3 linked regions of the Homo sapiens genome follow. The protein of the gene in region 1 binds, or shares a complex with, the protein of each later gene. Each region holds a gene or a part of one and is shown in the gene's direction. Other genes may lie near its edges.

Region 1 (3,751 bases):
CAACATAACAAGACTCATCTCTACTGAAAAAAAAAAAAAAAAAGAAAAAGATAATAGACATGCCCCTTTCTGCCAGGATTTTCTTTCTTTTTCTTTTTTTTTTTTCTTTTTTTTTTTTTTTGAGATGGAGCTTCACTCTTGTTGCCCAGGCTGGAGTGCAGTGGCGTGATCTCGGCTCACTGCAACCTCTGCCTCCTGGGTTCAAGGGATTCTCCTGCCTCAGCCTCCCGAGTAACTGGGATTACAGGCATGTGCAACCACGCCTGGGTAATTTTTTATTTTTAGTAGACATGGGGTTTCACCATGTTGGTCAGGCTGGTCTCAAACTTCTGACCTCAGGTGATCCACCTGCCTCAGCCTCCGAAAGTGTTGAGATTACAGGCATGAGCCACTGTGCCTGGCCGTTTTTATTTTCTCTTCTCTTCTCTTCTCTCTTTTCGACCGAGTCTTGCTGTGTCACGCAGGCTGGAGCGCAGTAGCACGATCTTGGCTCACTACAACCTCTGCCTCCTGGGTTCAAGTGATTCTCCTTCCTCAGCCTCCCGAGTAGCTGGCATTACAGGCGCGTGCCACCACGCCCAGCTAATTTTTTGTATTTTTAGTAGAGACGGGGTTTCGCTATGATGGCCAGGCTGGTCTTGAACTCCTGGCCTCAAGTGATCGCCTGCCTCAACCTCCTAAAGTGCCGGGATTACAGGCATGAGCAACCTTGTCTGGCTACTGCCAGCATTTTCTGACTGGGCCCTCTCTCCCATTTCAGGTGAAGTCAGCACTGTGCTTAAGCTGGATAACACAGTGGTGGGGCAGACGTCTTGGAAGCCATGTGGCCCCAATGCCTGGGACCAGAGCTTCACTCTGGAGCTGGAAAGGGTGAGCTGCGTTGGAGGACAGCAGGGCCTAGAGGAGGAGGGGTTCCATGCCTCTGGCACCCTGAGTGATGGCCCTCTTCCTCTCCCTCCAGGCACGGGAACTGGAGTTGGCTGTGTTCTGGCGGGACCAGCGGGGCCTGTGTGCCCTCAAATTCCTGAAGTTGGAGGATTTCTTGGACAATGAGAGGCATGAGGTGCAGCTGGACATGGAACCCCAGGGCTGCCTGGTGGCTGAGGTATAGCCCACACCTGACCCTGAGAAAATGCTTCTTCTCCCTCACTGCCCCATTCCCAGTTTCCTAGAAGGGGAAAATATGTTTTAGGTCTGGCTCTTCCAGAAGGGGAAGATAAGTTTTAAGTCAGGCTTTTCTAGAAGAGGAAAATAGATTTTAGATCCAGCTCTTCTAGAAACGGAAGATATGTTTTAACTCTGCCTTTTCTAGAAGGAGAAGATACGTTTTAGGTCAGGCTCTTCCAGAAGGGGAAGAGACGTTTTAGGTCTGCTTTTTTCTAGAAGGGAAAGATATGTTTTAGATCAGGCTCTTCTAGAAAGGGAAGATAGGCTTTTGATCTGCCTGTTCTAGGCTGGGCGTGGTGGCTCATGCCTGTAATCCCAGCACTTCGGAAGGCTGAGGCAGGAGGATCACCTGAGGTCAGGGAGACCAGCCTGGGCAACATGGTAAAACCGCGTCTCAACTAAAAGTACAAAATTAGCTGGGCGTCGTGGCACATGCCTTTAGTCCCAGCTACTTGGGAGGCTGAGACAGGAGAATCGCTTGAACCCAGGAGGCGGAGGCTGCAGTGAGCTGAGATCCCACCACTGCACTCCAGCCTGGGCGACAGAGTGAGACTCTGTCGCCCAGGAGTCTCACAAAAAAAAAAAAGATCTGCTTGTTCTAGAAGGGGAAGATACATTTTAGATCAGGCTCTTTTAGAAGCATAAGATATGTTTTAGATATGGTTTCTCTTAATACAGAAAGATAGTTTTAGATCAGGCTCTTTCAGAAGTGGCAGGTATGTTTTAGACCCGTGTATTCTAGAAGGGGAAGATACATTTTAGATCTGTCTCTGAACCTTGATAGAAAAGTACACCTTGGCCAGGTGTGGTGGCTCACGCCTGTAATCCCAGCACTTTGGGAGGCTGAGGCAGGTGGATCACTTGAGGCCAGGAGTTCCAGACTAGCCTGGCCAACATGGTGAAACCCCATCTCTATTAAAAATACAAAAATTAGCTGGGCATGATAGTGGGTACCTGTAATCCCAGCTACTTGGGAGGCTGAGGCAGGAGAATTGCTTGAACCCAGGAGACAGAGGTTGCAGTGAGCTGAGATCACGCCATTGCACTCCAGCCTGGGCAACAGAGTGAGACTCTTGTCTCAAAAAAAAAAAAAAAAGAAGAAGAAGAAGAAGAAAAGCACTTCTAATTAGCCACATCAGTGATAGGACCTTAGCTGGGATTGGTTTTGTTCTGAGGCAAGATACTTAAAAAAAAAAAAAAAGAAGAAGAAGAAGCTGATTTCCAAATTTAGAAATGTTTAAAGAAAAAAGGAAATAAATTATAAAATTTCTTCCAACCAGGAAAGAGATACAAAACCTGGCAACATATCGTGGTGATTGCTACCAGAGCCACAGTCAAGAGAAAGTGATTCCTTCCACAGCTGTGTGAGGGTGAAGGTCTGAATTGAGGTGGCCTACCCTTGGCACTGTTGACATCTGGGGCCACATCATCCTCTGTGGTGGGGCTGTCCTGCATACTAGAGGATGTAGCACCTCTCCCCACTGCTTACAGGATGTCAGTAGCACCACCTCCCCCTGAGTTTTGACAGCCCAGAGGTCTCCAGACACTGTCAAGTGCTCCCTGGCCGGGAACCCCTGGTCTAAATGACATTTCTAGCTGAGTTCTCATAGTATAAGCCAGGCTCTGTAGCGAGTACTTTGGCGACGTGAACTCATTAATTCTCACAACCAACCAACAAAAGAGGGACTGTTATTACTCAAATTTGACAGAGGAGGAAACTGGGGCACAGAGAAGGGGCACTTGACCCCTCATTTAGCCAAATTATCCTAAAAAACTCTTTTAATCTTCCGCTAACCTATATGTGTACCCCATTTTACATATATATATGATAGATTACCTATATATGTATACACACACATATTATCTATTATTTACCCACCTACGTGTCCATCCATCCATTTTGTCTGTCTATGCATTCATCCATCCATCTTTTTTTTTTTTTTTTTTTTTTGAGATGGAGTCTCGCTGTCTCCCAGGCTGGAGTGCAGTGGTGCGATCTTGGCTCACTGCAACCTCTGCTTCCCGGGTTCATGCCATTCTCCTGCCTCAGCCTCCCGAGTAGCTGGGACTACAGGCACCCGCTACCACGCCCGGATAATTTTTTGTATTTTTAGTAGAGACGGGGTTTCACCCACCGTGTTAGCCAGGATGGTCTCCATCTCCTGACCTCGTGATCTGCCCGCCTTGGCCTCCCAAAGTGCTGGGATTACCGGCGTGAGCCACCGCGCCCGGCCCAGCCATCTTATCAATGCATCCTCTATCCATTGATAGATACACCTATATTATCTGTCTTATCTATGTATCCATCTATATTAGGTATCTATATCATCTATTTATCTAATCCATCTATCCATTTATCTATCTCTATCTATATATTATCTATCAACCAATCTATTTTTCCATGCATCCGTCTCTATTATCTGTCAGTCATCTTATCCATCAATCTTATGTATGCATCATCCATCCATCTATCCATCCCTGTATATTTCTCTGTATATATATCTACCCATTCCTCTCTCTATCTCTATCTATCCCTCTCTATATCTATCTGTGCCTCTGTTTTTCTCTATATAGCTATATCTAT
Region 2 (3,751 bases), on another chromosome or scaffold:
ATTATAAGTTTCTATATTCCGTATCTCTGTGGTATTTGAATAGAGTGGCCTTCCTAATACAGCTTCTGTTTCGGACTTCCCAGGAACATCCTCAAATTCTGCTCACTTCCTTTCTTGAAGATCTAACCTGTCTCGTTCCTACTTTCTCCCACTTCCAACACACACACACACAACCCACCCACCCACACAGACACACACACACACAACCACCCCCCCCCCCACCCCAGGTAATACCACTGACTGCAAACAGCATGCAACCAGATTGACAAAAACCCGTGAGTTCCTGCACCTTTGAGGTTCTTGTATGATAAACAGCTGCAATTATCCTGGAGCATTTTTATGAGACGGGCTTGAAAAATGAGGGGAGAGTTCTAGTCCGTCATAGTGCCTGGTGCCCCCTGCTGTGGGGTCGGGAGGGATCCAGAAGCTCGCTGTCGTCCTGGCCAGAGTTGCAGGGCTCCCCTCTGTGTGCCTCCCAGGGTGTGGTGCTGCAGCAGGACAGCTACATTGAGGACCAGAAACTGGTGCTGAGCGAGAGGGCGCTCACTCGCAGCTTGTCCCGCCCGAGCTCCCTCATTGAGCAGGAGAAGCAGCGCAGCCTGGAGAAGCAGCGCCAGGACCTGGCCAACCTGCAGAAGCAGCAGGCCCAGTACCTCGAGGAGAAGCGCAGGCGCGAGCGTGAGTGGGAAGCTCGTGAGAGGGAGCTGCGGGAGCGGGAGGCCCTCCTGGCCCAGCGCGAGGAGGAGGTGCAGCAGGGGCAGCAGGACCTGGAAAAGGAGCGGGAGGAGCTCCAGCAGAAGAAGGGCACATACCAGTATGACCTGGAGCGACTGCGTGCTGCCCAGAAACAGCTTGAGAGGGAACAGGAGCAGCTGCGCCGGGAGGCAGAGCGGCTCAGCCAGCGGCAGACAGAACGGGACCTGTGTCAGGTAATGGGACTCCCTGCCGAGAGCAACCTAATGATGATATTAATTAAGACCCCCTGTGTATTAAGCAAGGTAAGAAAGTGAGCAGAAATATAGAGCCTGTTTTTGGCCAGATGCTCATGCCTGTGATCCCAGCACTTTAGGAGGCTGAGGTGAGAGGGTAGCTTGACCAGCCTGGGCAACAGAGGGAGACTCTGTCTCTCCTAAAAAAAAAAAAAAAAAAACAAACAAACAAACAAAAAAAAAAAACAGTTTTTAAGAATCTTTGTAGCTGGACACAATGGCTCACACCTATAAATCCCAGCACCTTGGGAGGCCGAGGCAGGTGGATCTCTTGAGGCCAGGAGTTTGAGACCAGCCTGGTCAACATGGCGAAACGGCGTCTCTACTAAAAATACAGAAATTAGCTGGGTGTGGTGGCAGGCGCCTATAATCCCAGCTGCTTGGGAGTCTGAGGCATGAGAATCGCTTGAACCGGGGAGGTGGGGATTGCAGCGAGCCGAGATCTCGCCACTGCACTCCAGCCTGAGCAACTCCGTCTCAAAAAAACACACACAGAAAAACAAAAAGAATCTTTGTTTTACCCCGAAAGAGAGGCAGAGGCAGAAAGTCTTCTTCTGCTTTTTGCATCTCTAAGAGGCTGAAAAAGAGAATGGAAGTGCTGGGGCATTTTGGCCAGGGCAGTAATGGATATTTGGAGTTGGCACTTCCCTCAGCTAGAGGAGTCTCAGTGTGTCTGAGAAAATGGCAGTCAGCCATCCAGGATTTTAGGAGCAACGCCACTGCTCTGTGCCACATCAGAAATCAGGCATGGCCCCAACCTGAAGGAACTTGTAGCTTAATGGGGAAGCACACCAAGAATAAAAGAGCCTCCAGAACATGTGGTGCCTGTGGTCCTGAGACAGCAGGAAATGGCTCTCAGGCCAGAGTTGCTGGAAGAACCCATGTGGCAGGATCGGTGGGAGGCAGTTACAGAGGGAAACGCCCATCCCAGCAACTAGGGGAGGCCGCCACTCCTCTCGTGGATGGATGATATTCTTGCTTGGGGATGTTGAGACAGCTGCACTCTGCATAGTTCCTGATTTGCCTCTCTACTGCTGATGAAAAACCTCTCTTTCTCTATAGCTGCTGCTTATATTGGAAGGCTTTTGGTTATTCAGCACACTCACTCCTGAGCTTATTTCAGTGATATTCCTTGGTTATTTCGAAACATGGATGCTTGTGGCAGATGGAGAGCCTGGGTGTACACAGATCTGCCTGTGTTTTGAAATGCATACCATGTTGCCGTTTGTTTGATTGATTGATCTTGGACCACGAAAGAAAATTATACTGACAGCTTCCAGGGTAGGGGGCAGTTGTAGCTTTCTGCAGATGTTGCCAAATATATTGGGGGTGGGGAGCAGCAAATGCCATGTGTTGCTTTTTATGACATAAGGAGGGATTCCACCCCCATCCCAATAAAATCGGTGCTTTGACAAAGGAGGGTTCCCAGGCAGCTAAGAGAACCCAGAGTAGATGATCCTCTTTATCTCTGGTTTAACCTGTGACTAGGATTCTTGGTGTAAGCTCGGCTTTTCCACTTATCCTCTAACCGGAACAGGCTTCTATAATCTCTTTGCCTTAAAATAATTATCTGCATCCCTGTGTAGAGCAATCTTAAGCAGCTCTCCTTGTTTCTTCAGGGAATGGGAATTCTTTTCTAAGTCGCCCCATCAAAGGTACTATTGGTTTTTTACAACGCCGGCGTTTGTGTATGTAGTAAAAGTATTAACAGCATTAAAGGCGATATTTTTAACATGTTTATAGATACTACTTGGGGGAGGGCAGCTAATGAAACCTTCAAGCTCTATGCAGTCCACAGACGTGAGCTCTGTAGAGTTCGCAGAGGTGGGTAAGTACCCAGCCAGCACACCCAGTTGAATTCAGCCAGGATTTATTGAGTTGGCATCACGGACGCTGACAGCCTCCAAGTGAAAACCCTTCTCTTGAATATGTACAGGTTTCCCATCCACATACCAAGCTGATGAGGATCCCATCGTTCTTCCCCAGTCCTGAGGAGCCCCCCTCGCCATCTGCACCTTCCATAGCCAAATCAGGGTCATTGGACTCAGAACTTTCAGTGTCCCCAAAAAGGAACAGCATCTCTCGGACACACAAAGATAAGGGGCCTTTTCACATACTGAGTTCAACCAGCCAGACAAACAAAGGACCAGAAGGGCAGAGCCAGGCCCCTGCGTCCACCTCTGCCTCTACCCGCCTGTTTGGGTTAACAAAGCCAAAGGAAAAGAAGGAGAAAAAAAAGAAGAACAAAACCAGCCGCTCTCAGCCCGGTGGTGAGTCACGCACACCTGCTCTCCCTGTGGCCATAGTGTCTGTGCATTCTGAGAGAGGGTAGATTTTAGTGGCATGGGGCGGGGTTGAAAAGGGGACAGTTCAGATGCTCAAAAGCCAAACTGCCATCCTTTTCACCAGCTCCGCTTGCTAAGAGCACTCATGCAGCGAACATTAAGAACCCACTCTGTGTGGCACGTGTGCAGAAGCAGAGAGCATGGGTTTCATTTTCAAGGCATTATCCGATCGAGGAACTGGAGCTCACCCCTCAATGAAGTAATTCAAGTCCTCCTTGCCTTTCTGGGCCTAGAGTAGTCATTGGTAACAGCTAGCATTTGGTGATTTAACCCTCAAATGACTGTATGAAGTTGGCACTGCTAACCCCAAGAGAAGTGAGGAAACTGAGGCTCACAGAGGCTAACTAATGTGCCAGCGGCCACAGAGCCTGCGGCTGAATTCCACTAAATGCCTCCCTGTTCATGTACCACTTTTTC
Region 3 (3,751 bases), on another chromosome or scaffold:
TCATATTGCTATGGATTTCTCTTAATTGTTGGGAAGTTTTCCAACTGATGCTTCAAACTTTAGCAAGAATTAATGACCTAATGATAGGATTGAGTGATAGCAAATGTTATATCGGAAAAGAAGATTGTGGGAGGCCATGACTAGCTGTTTACAAATATACAAAAGGATGTCTTATGAAAAGCAAAACTTCAAACATTAGCATGTTGTGAGTGATCACATGAGAACCAACAAGGCTTTCATGATAATCTGATATTATGCCCCTATTTGCTAATTGTGTATGGCACAACCGGCCTCAAAGAAACATACTATAGTAGAGCAGACTGTGTTATGGTACTACACCATCCTAACTTTTGTTTTTCAGCCACCATTTGTAATGGAGAAGTGGATTGTAGGAATAGCAAAAAGTCAGACTGTGGAGTGCACTGTCACATATGAGGTAAGCTCTGGGGGCAAGAGGCTGGTGGCCTCACCATCAGTTAATGAATATAAATTTATCTGTTATCTCAGAGCATATAATTTATTGGGAGATATACCCAGAGCATATAATTTATTGGGAGTAAACCAACCAACATGAACATAGGAAGATCAATATAATTTCTCTCACAACGTGTTGGGAAGAAAAGAGAACAGGATAAACTTACCCAGATAGCGACTGAGGTAGTACTTCAGTCATTCATTAGTTATGGATTGAACACCTTCTGTATACCATGTAAGATGTTTGGTATTGGGGATACTAATAGTTAATACTAATTTTTTTTAAATCAACAAGATCTTCATGGCTGGTAGGACATACACCTTACAAGGTACGTAGACCCGGTGGGAGTGGGTGGAAGGCAACAGTTATAGTACAGTCTTGGCACACCTGGAAATATTAGTGTGCACCCACCATCAAAGGGACATGCATTTCATTCATTCATCAATTCATTCATTCAAGAAACATTTATTAAGGATCTACCATGAACCAGGCACTATTAGAGGTGCTTACACCAGTTTGATCACACTAACTTCATGTAAATCAATACTGAAAAATATCGTCCAGGCGCAGTGGCTCACACCTGTAATCTCAGTACTTTGGGAGGCTGAGGTGGGCAGATCACTTGAGCCCAAGAGTTTGAGACCAGCCTGGGCAGCATTATGAAACCCTATCTCTACAAAAAATACAAAAAGTAGCCAGGTGTGGTGGCACATGACTATGGTCCCAGCTACTCGGGAGGTTGAAGTCGGGGGATTGCTTGAGCCCAGGAGGTTGAGGCTGCAGTGAGCCGAGATCACACCACTGCACTCCAGCCTGGGTGAGACAGTGAGACCCCTGTCTCCAGAAAAAAAAAAAAATACTGAAAGATATTATTATCCTCATTTTGCAGATAGGAAGAATAGGCTCAGAGAGATGAAAGGAAGTCTTGAGGTGTGAGGTCCTCACTGACAGAATTGTTGAAGTCAATTCCATGTTTTCTGACTATAAAAAACACTTTCTGCGCTTCCCTGGCTACCCTGTTAGCTCCCAGTGGCTGCAGTAAGATGAAGTCCACCTCAAAGAGGACTCTGTGAGTGTGGCATTTTGATGGTTTCCTGGGCTGCCAGGATTTGGCTTTTCAATATTAGAAATACAAACCCTGGGCCAGGCACGGTGGCTCAAGCCTGTAACCCCAGCACTTTGGGAGGCCAAGGCGGGTGGATCACCTGAGGTCAGGAGTTCGAGACTAGCCTGGCCAACATGGTAAAACGTCATCTCTACTAATAATACAAAAATTAGCTGGGCATGGTGGTGCATGCCTGTAATCCCAGCTACTCAGGAGGCTGAGGCAGGAGAATCGCTTGAACCCTGGATGCAGAAGTTGTGGTGAGCTGAGATTGCGCCATTGCACTCCAGCCCAGGAGACAAGAGCAAAACTGTCTCAAAAAAGAAAAAAAAAAAGAAAAGCAAAGCAATACAAACTCTGGCCAGTCCACTTATCCAGGCTGGAAGCCAAAAAGTTTTACAGCAGTTATTTATCCTCACCTGCTGGGGTGCACAGGTTGTCAGGGATGAGGCATCTGAGAAGTTATATTACTTGTCAAAGCATTGCTTGCAAGGTGCAAAACCCAAACAAAAGAGGCTGGTTGGTCTTGAGGAACTTGGAAACTAGACTACTCTACAGCCTGTTAACTGGTCCTCACTACCCAGGAAAAGCCCTCTTGTTAGTAATCGGACAATTAGAACAACCAGATTCTACCTCTGCCTGCCTTAGACAGTTTTGGAGACAGCACACCCAGTTCTCTTTTTCTTCTTCTCTCTCCCTCCTCCTCCTTTTTCAGACCCCATGATGATATGCCACTTTTGTCTGGGTTTTTCACTTCAGAGTTTTTTAAAACAGATTTCCCTAACCATATTGAATCCTGGAGACTCTTTAATTGACACTGATTGGTGACAGCTAGTGAGGAGGGAGATTTCAGAACAAGAAAGTAATGTGTCTTGACCTAGTGTCCTCTCCTTTTCCTGGTCCCCATTTCTTACTTCTTGATCCTGTCTCACTTTTGCATCTGAGACCCTTTCCCCTCCGTGCAGGTAATTCACCCCACCACCTTCACTCAGTTTCCTTGATGATCCAAATTCAGTCTTAGGCAAACATGGTGGTCAGATTTTCATTTATTCAACAAAATAGCTGTCATCAAGTACTATAAATAGAAGATGTAATTTTTTATTTCTTATTAAACAAAGAGGTAAGTTGAGATTTGTCAAATATAATAAATTCTGGGAAAAGACAACCATATTTTTTAGCTACTATAGTTTACTAAGAAATTTATGTTATAATCCATTAAGGAATAAGTGCTATAACCCACTAAGAAATAAAGTGGTTAAAATTTTTCTTTTCATTGAATTAGCATATTTGGGCCAACTGTTCAGAATATTTTCCTAGTGCATTATGATAGTGTTCTAAGAGGTGAAACTGAAGTGATATAATAACCTGGATGACTTTCTTTCCCATTTTATATATGTGTGTCTATTTGGTCATATGTTTCTATTTGTCTTTTTTTTGTCTTTTTCGTTTGTTTGTTTTACCAGAGTGATGTTAGAACTCCAAAAAGCACTAAACATGTCCATTCGATTCAGTGGAGTAGAACAAAACCTCAGGATGAAGTGAAAGCAGTCCAACTTGCCATTCAGACATTATTCACCAATTCAGATGGCAACCCTGGAAGCAGGTCCGACTCAAGTAAGTTAGTGTTCCCGTATTAGATGTGTGCTAGATTCCAGAAACTTAATTATGACATTTCCAGATGATCTAAAGACTCAGAGGATACCACCTCAATCAGTTAAGATCTATCTTTGAGCTTCGAGTAGCAGAAAACCCAGTTGCAACTGGCTTACTCCAATAATTCCCCAAGTGTGGCCCCAGGACCAGGAGCATCGGGATCACCTGTGAACTTGCTAGAAATCCAGATGCTCAGGCCCAAACCCAGACTTACTGAATCAGAACTCTGGGGATAGGAGCTGCAGTCTGCATTTTAAGGAGCCTTCCCAGTGATTAAGAACAACTCTAAAGTCCTTAAGCCACTGATTTAAACTGTAATAAAATTTATTATCTTCCATAACAAGAAGCCCAGAGGTAGGGCAGGCTCCAGGTGCAGTAAGATAAGCTGGCTCAACCATATTCAGAGAGTGGAATGAACCTTCCCTTCTTTCTGCCCTGCCATGCTCAATAGGCTGCCTTTGCCCTCGGCTCCTCTCCTGTTTACAGTCATCACACAAAGATATCACAACGCCCAGAGG

Evidence for each region.
Region 2: PKN1 (region 1) and AKAP13 share a complex: the UniProt entries of both Homo sapiens proteins name them as parts of the signaling complex.
Region 3: PKN1 (region 1) and MAP3K20 share a complex: the UniProt entries of both Homo sapiens proteins name them as parts of the signaling complex.

Annotation. Positions count from the first base shown.
Region 1 is NC_000019.10:14,457,271-14,461,021, forward strand, and holds part of PKN1 (serine/threonine-protein kinase N1), read left to right. Parts: intron 1-760; coding exon 761-870; intron 871-961; coding exon 962-1,105; intron 1,106-3,751. UniProt on the Homo sapiens protein: PKC-related serine/threonine-protein kinase involved in various processes such as regulation of the intermediate filaments of the actin cytoskeleton, cell migration, tumor cell invasion and transcription regulation.
Region 2 is NC_000015.10:85,740,567-85,744,317, forward strand, and holds part of AKAP13 (A-kinase anchor protein 13), read left to right. Parts: intron 1-479; coding exon 480-929; intron 930-2,925; coding exon 2,926-3,259; intron 3,260-3,751. UniProt on the Homo sapiens protein: Scaffold protein that plays an important role in assembling signaling complexes downstream of several types of G protein-coupled receptors.
Region 3 is NC_000002.12:173,260,702-173,264,452, forward strand, and holds part of MAP3K20 (mitogen-activated protein kinase kinase kinase 20), read left to right. Parts: intron 1-361; coding exon 362-436; intron 437-3,043; coding exon 3,044-3,194; intron 3,195-3,751. UniProt on the Homo sapiens protein: Stress-activated component of a protein kinase signal transduction cascade that promotes programmed cell death in response to various stress, such as ribosomal stress, osmotic shock and ionizing radiation.